2 linked regions of the Homo sapiens genome follow. The protein of the gene in region 2 purifies or fractionates together with the protein of the main gene of each other region. This does not show direct contact. Each region holds a gene or a part of one and is shown on either strand. Other genes may lie near its edges.

What was found. Proteins that work in one complex are often made in the same cells at the same time.
Region 1: the proteins of GABBR2 (region 2) and CASR purify together in Homo sapiens (affinity purification with western blotting; one study listed by BioGRID). This does not show direct contact.

The regions. Positions count from the first base shown.
Region 1 is NC_000003.12:122,288,122-122,291,777, forward strand, and holds the end of CASR (extracellular calcium-sensing receptor isoform 2 precursor), read left to right. Parts: 3' UTR 1-3,508; downstream 3,509-3,656. UniProt on the Homo sapiens protein: G-protein-coupled receptor that senses changes in the extracellular concentration of calcium ions and plays a key role in maintaining calcium homeostasis.
Region 2 is NC_000009.12:98,299,780-98,303,435, forward strand, and holds part of GABBR2 (gamma-aminobutyric acid type B receptor subunit 2 precursor), read right to left. Parts: intron 3,645-3,656; coding exon 3,462-3,644; intron 1-3,461. UniProt on the Homo sapiens protein: Component of a heterodimeric G-protein coupled receptor for GABA, formed by GABBR1 and GABBR2. Within the heterodimeric GABA receptor, only GABBR1 seems to bind agonists, while GABBR2 mediates coupling to G proteins.

The DNA.
Region 1 (3,656 bases), on a different chromosome or scaffold from region 2:
TCCAGTGGAATCCCAAGGGCCCTTAAATGTGGACGAAGCAGAAGAGTCAGTGTGAGAGCAATACAGTATGAGAAAAACACCACTGGCCTGTACTGCCTTTGCGTAGGGAAGTGGACATGAGCTGAGGAAGGCAGGCTGCTTCTAGAAGCTGGCAAATGCCAGAAAACCGATTCTCCCCTAAAACATCCAGAAAGGAATGCAGCCCTGCCAACATCTTGATTTTAGCCCAGTGACACCCTTGTAGGACTTTGGACCTCCAGATCTGTAAGATAATACATTTGTGTTGTTTTAAGCCATGAAGTTTATAGTAATTTGTTTCAGCAGCAACAGAAAACAAATACATTTGTATTGTTATCTCCTTCCCTGAGTTTTGGCAGCCAGAGCCTGTCTCAGAGATCTATTCCTGTTCTCACTGTGGTCCTCTTCCCTTCACCTAGCTCACTCCTTCCCCTCTAATATTCTATTCCTCTACATCTGCTTGGGAAAGTATAAACCTCATATTCTAAGTCTTTGCTGGCTTTGGTTATAGAAAATACACAGCCGTGTTGTCTCATTCTATTATCTGTCAGTAGCAGAAACCTGAAATTGGTAGCTTCAACAAACTAGTGTTTGCTTTTCTCTTGAATAAAGGAAGTCAGGAGGTAAATATATGATCACCTTTTAATTACTTTTTAAAATATTTCTTAGGTTTTGTTAACAATGGGAAACTGCTTACATTTCTTTTGAAAATTAAAATGAATTATAAAGTTAAAAAGATTTTCACTCAAATGAAAGTGTCCTAGAAGATTTTAAGAATTTAGGTTGGAAATTTAGAGGTGACGATCAGCATATAACATCAATACCCTGAAAGTCCCTATGATCGTCACACGTTGTCTAATTGCATTAATTTTGATTTTGGGGAAGTTGGGGCTACCCTACCTCTGTCTCCAAAAGGCACATTTCAAGGCAATGTTGTCTGTCGTTTTGCTCTGGCTGAAATCACATAGCTACGGGCTGGTTCTGCCCAGCCAGAGCTTCCCTTTGCTCATCTGCTGCATTTGAAATAATTATTGCTACAAGAATAATGGAACATCAATAAGGGGTGCTAATCACCGGAGGAGGTGGCCCTCATTTGTCTGAGCCTGAGTGGTCATTTTAGGAGTCCACTGGAGACAAGAATACTCCCAAAGGTGGGTGGAATTAGGGTAGGTGGGAGGAAGTTGCCACAGTGAGATCACAGCCTCTGGGAGATGCTGGTTTTCCTGGCCCAGATCATGGAAAAAAAACATCAAGACTTGGATGACAACTTTGAGTGACTTTGCTATTATGCAAGGAGTGAGGCAGGGGTCAGGGAAACAACAAGCACAGGGTAGAACCTGTCACAGGAATAAAGGTGCATTCCAAGGATCCAAAGAAGAACCTTAGCCTTGAGAGGAAAAGCTCAGCAAGTGGTATGAGAAATGGAGAACTGCTAGGTGAAGGCCAACAGGGCAGGAAGCCGGGCAGAGCCAGCATGAAGGTGCCTCTGGGAACTGGAGGGACAACTGTGACTCTAGCACCGAGTGGGGCTAGGGGAACCTTCTCCTCTGTTGGGAATAACCACCACATTCATCCCCTCCCCTGACCCCTGGACAAGAGTGGAGGACACTTGGAGTGGAGACAAGCAGGGGTACCTGTTTAAATCAACAGCTGAGGCCAGATGCAGAGGCTCATGCCTGCAATCCCAGCACTTTGGGAGGCTGAGGTGGGAGGATCACTTGAGCCCTAAGAGTTGAAGACCAGCCTGGGCAACATGGCAAAACCCCATCTCTACAAACAATAAAAAAAAAAAACAGCTGGACATGGTGGCATGCGCCTGTAGTGGCAGATAACTCAGGAGGCTGAGGTGGGGGGATCTGCTTGAGCCCAGGAGGTGAAGGCTGCATTGAGCTGTGATTGCACCACTGCACTCCAGCCTGGGTGACAGAGCAAGACCCTGCCAAAAAAAAAAAAAAAGAAGAAGAAAAACAATTTTATTGGTAGAGGCGGGGGGAATAATAGAGATACAGCACCAGCTCCCTGCCTCTAAAATGTGGGCACCTGGGTAACTAGATAGCGCAGGAAGTTAGAACAAATAAAAGCAGCAAACTCTGTGACTGAAGTTTCAGCACATGGATGGCAAATATTTTCAAGTTTGGTGAAAATAGGTAAGAGATCAAAGCCCAAGAATAAACCCTGGGGTCATTACAGGATTTCCTGTAAAGGCATCAGGAAATGTTTTTGGAAGAATGTGATTGTCTTCGTTGATATCAACCCAAAGATGTGGTTATTGTTCAGAATGTCCTGATTTTCTTTAAATGTTTTGTTTCTATCTGACCTCTCATTATAAATGAGAAACTTATAAATTATAAATATACACTCATTATAAATGAAGATTGCTTGGTAATGGACTAATGGATAATTGTTTCTGCTTCTTTAGGATGTTCTAAATTTTTCCCAAGTTTTGTACATTAAGCACAAAATTATAACAGGAAAATAAAGAAAAGAATTTAAAATAAACATGCAACCAAATTTTAAACAGATAAGTATATCATATTAGATAGGAATCACCATACTGGGTCAGTCACCCCTCCTCCAAATTTTTCTTTATTCTTTTTTTTTTATTATACTTTAAGTTTTAGGGTACATGTGCACAACGTGCAGGTTTGTTACATATGTATACATGTGCCATGTTGGTGTGCTGTACCCATTAACTCGTCATTTACCATTAGGTATATCTCCTAATGCTATCCCTCCCCCCTCCCCCCACCCCACAATAGGCCCTGGTGTGTGATGTTCCCCTTCCTGTGTCCATGTGATCTCATTGTTCGATTCCCACCTATGAGTGAGAATACGTGGTGTTTGGTTTTTTGTCCTTGTATTAGTTTGCTGAGAATGATGGTTTCCAGCTTCATCCATGTCCCTACAAAGGACACGAACTCCTCATTTTTTATGGCTGCATAGTATTCCATGGTGTATATGTGCCACATTTTCTTAATCCAGTCTATCGTTGTTGGACATTTGGGTTGGTTCCAAGTCTTTGCTATTGTGAATAGTGCCACAATAAACATATGTGTGCATGTGTCTTTATAGCAGCATGATTTCTAATCCTTTGGGTATATACCCAGTAATGGGATGGCTGGGTCAAATGGTATTTCTAGTTCTAGATCCCTGAGGAATCGCCACACTGACTTCCACAATGGTTGAACTAGTTTACAGTCCCACCAACAGTGTAAAAGTGTTCCTATTTCTCCACATCCTCTCCAGCACCTGTTGTTTCCTGACTTTTTAATGATCGCCATTCTAACTGGTGTGAGATGGTATCTCATTGTGGTTTTGATTTGCATTTCTCTGATGGCCAGTGATGATGAGCATTATAAATGAAGATTGCTTGGTAGTGGACTAATGGATAATTGTTTCTGCTTCTTTAGGATTTTCTAAATTTTTCCCAAGTTTTGTATATTAAGCACAAAATTATAACAGGAAAATAAAGAAAAGAATTTAAAATAAACATGCAACCAAATTTTAAACAGATAAGCATATCATATTAGATAGGAATCACCATATTGGGTCAGTCACCCCTCCTACAAATTTTTCCAGAGCTCTAATTAGCTCCCAAGAGTTTCATGGGACTTTTAAATTTCTGAACGGGCCGAGGA
Region 2 (3,656 bases):
AGGGGGAGGTTGTGCAGATCAAACAAGATAATACATGGAAAGTTTAGCCCAGTGTCTGAAACATAATAAGGGCAACTTGCTACTATAATAATATTACTATTATTACAGGGTCTCACTCTGTCACCCAGATTAGAGTGCAGTGGTGCAATTATAGCTTACTGCAACCTTGATCTCCTAGGCTCAAGCAATCCTCCTGTCTCACCCTCCTGAGTAGCTGGGACTACACGTGCATGCTACCATGTCTGGCTAATTTTTTTTTTTTTTGGTAGAGATGGGGTCTCTCTATGTTCCTCAGGCTGGTCTTGAACTCCTGAGCTCAAGCAATCCTCCCACTTTGGCCTCCCAAAGTGCTGGGTTTACAGGCATGAACTACTGTGCCTGGCCTTATAATTACTATTACTGATACTTAATAGGACCCACAGTGGAGGACAGACATGCAGGGCTCGCGAGCTCTGAGCCTCACACTATCATGGAGACTCTGACCTGCAGGGTCTCACTCAGAGGAGTTAATCAGGATGGGTCCCAGTCATCCCCACGTTTTTATTTTTAGAGACAAGTCTTCTCTATGTTGCCCAGGCCGGTCTTGAACTCCTGGGCTCGAGCGATCCTCCCACTTTGTCCTCCCAAAGCGTTGGGATTACAGGTGTGAGCCACAGCACCTGGCCCATTCCCAGGTTATACAAAAATCAGGTGCAAGTCCTGGGGGCAATTCAGCCCCAGAGAAGCCTGGGCAATATGAGTGTTGGTAGTTGTTGGGGGTGGTAGTCGGGATGGGTGTTGAACATCTGTGATATTACCATATCTGTATAATAGAATGGCTTTCATCCATGATTCCTGGCTGCTATATCTCTTGTAAGAGTCTTTTGTTATAATGTTGGGGCATTTTAGGCCTCAGGAGCGGGCCTCATGAAACAGAATCACTCTCTCTGACCTTCTCCTGTCCTTTCTCACCTGCTCAAGGCAGGACTGTAATCTGATGTAGGTCAAAAGACCTTTATCACAGAGAGAAAGTCTTGCCCCATACCCTGGAGGAAGGAATGCTACAGAGAGGCCAAGAAAATTCTGAGCAGAAAGGCCTTGCTGGGTTTAGATCATGCATTTTTGTCCAATCACATTTCTACACAGTTGTCAGTCATGCCTCGTGTAATGAAGCCTCCATAAAAACTCAAAAGAACAGGGTATGAAGATCTTCTGGGTAGCTGAACACGTGAAGGTTCCTGGAGCATGGGGCCCAGGGAGGCAGGGAAGCTCCACACCCCTTCACCCGTCCTCGCTCTGTGCATCTCTTCATTCATGTCCTTGGTAATAAGCTGGTAAATGTGTTTCCCTGGGTTCCGTGAGCCCCTCTAGCAAATTAATTCAACCCAAAGCAGGATCCTGGGAGTCCCAACTTGAAGCTGGCTGGTCAGAAGTTCCAGAGGCCTGACTTATGACTGGTATCTGAGGGTAGGGTGGGGGTCAGGGGGAGCCTTGGGGACTGAGCCCTCAACCTGTGGGATCTGAAGCTATCTCTAGATATGTAGCATTGGATTTGAACTGGAGGCACCCAGCGGGTGCCTGCTGCTCGTTGGTGGGGAAAACCCCACACACATTTGGTCACAGAAGTCTTCTGCGTTGACTGTTGTGTTGGTGCAAGAGCACAGGAAAAACATGGTTAGAGGATTTTTCCAAACAGCATCCTGCTGTAGTATAAGGGAGGAGACCTGATAAACTATCAGAGGCTGTTCTGATGTCAGGAACACAGCCATGAAATTGTTTAACACGTTTTCATGTGGAGGAGGAGGGAAAGAGATACTCTTTTCTATGTGACTTAAATGGCAGGAGTAGGATCAAAGGGTGGGGACAACAGGAGGCCAGATTGTGATTCATTTCCGGGAAAAATAACACAACATTTAAGAGTTTTAAATAGTGGCCTGGGTTTCCTAATGTGACTGAACTCTTCATTGCTGAAGTGTGCAAGTAGAAGTGAAATGCAGTGACATGGTCGTACTCATCAGGAGAGGTCTGATATTGAAACAGAGCCTGTAATGGGCTTTGGGGGACAGAAACCCTTCTTAGTTTGCTCTGGCAGCTGATGGTGGGTTACCTCATCCTAAAGCAGTCATCTTTAGGTGCACAGACAACTGTATGGTGGCTCTCTGTGGCAGAATTCTGTGAGCCCCCCAAAGGGCGGCCAGATCTAGCAAATAAAAATCCAGAATGTCCAGTCAAATTTGAGTTTCAGATAATGGGTTCTTTTTTAGTATAAGTATATTCAAGTATTACTTGGGCTAAACTTTTACTGAAAATATGATTGGTTGTTGATCTGAAGTCTGAATTTAACTGGGCATCCCATATCTAATCTGGCAACCCTATGTCTCACTTCTTCCTTGCAGCTGTCCAGCTAGAGACGACGTTTCCCAGCCTCTCCTCTCACTAGGTGTGCTCATGTCAGTTTTTGTTGATGTGACTAGGGCAGAACCAAAATATGCACAATTTTTGGTGTTACTGCTTAAAAGGCAATCCCTCATGTGGACTTTCTATCTCTTCCCCTCCTGACACTGTGAACAGGACATGCTGTCCACCCAGCTCTCCCGCTATGAATGAAGAGAACACCCTGGAGAGTGGGGAAAACCAGAGGGCAGGAACCAAGCCCAGCAATGACCTTGGGGAGCAGAGCTGCCCCAACCGGGCCCTCTCTTTTCACGGCCATTAGGTAAAAGGGAAATAAACATATTTTCTCTGGGCCACTTTATTTTGGGGCCTTGTTTAGCCAGCATTGTAACCAATGTACTTTCCTTGGTCCCTTTCCTGTCCCCCTCCCTAATCAGAATTCCTCTATTAAAGCAACACACAGCCTGCAGAGCACGGGTTCAGGCATACCTCCAACCCAAAGGGAGGGGTAGAGGAGGGGAGGTAATTTGTTTTCCCTTCCCTGGTCTACAAGCCAAGCCTGGCTTGGGCACAAGGCAATCTGGCTATGGTCTCTCTGGAATATTCAAGAACCAGTTGAGAACCCTCAGGACAAAGGCGAGGTCTGCTGCAGCACTCTCTCTTGAAAAGTTTCTTTTCACTTTCTCTTCTCTTGTACATCACATAGATGTGGTGGTTGCTGGGTTGTGCTGGGAGAGTGAAAAACTGAGAGGGAGAGAGACACAGATAAAGAGACACTGACGTAGGAAGCTATGATAATCCAGAAGCTCACAAATCTCCCTGAGTTCCTTTCTGTCTGGGGATGGCTTGAATCAGGTGTTGCTGGCCTCCAAGAGCCTGGGTGAGGTGGGCAATAAGCTCATGTTGGATTCTGACAAATGCCTCTGTGTGGTTTATGTCACCCCTGGCTCTCGCAGCTGCAACTGCAGCTGATGAGACTGCACGGTCATGCTGCAGGGATGGTCTAGAGGAGCCTGAGAGTCCCCGCACAGGGTTAGAGGGGCTTCAGTGGCAGACAGGGCCCAGCTACCAGATGCAGAGGGAGGTACCTCTGTGATCTTCATTCGCAGGCGATGGTTTTCTGACTGTAGGCCCTCCAGGCGGGATGTGCTGGCTTGGTTCACACTGGTGACCGAGGTGGACGTTTTAGAATCTTCTTTCTTCTGATTCTGAGTGAACTGGAATCGCCTGTTCTGCGTTGCTGCATCTGGGTTTGTTCTCAGGGTGATGAGCTGAAAGGACAA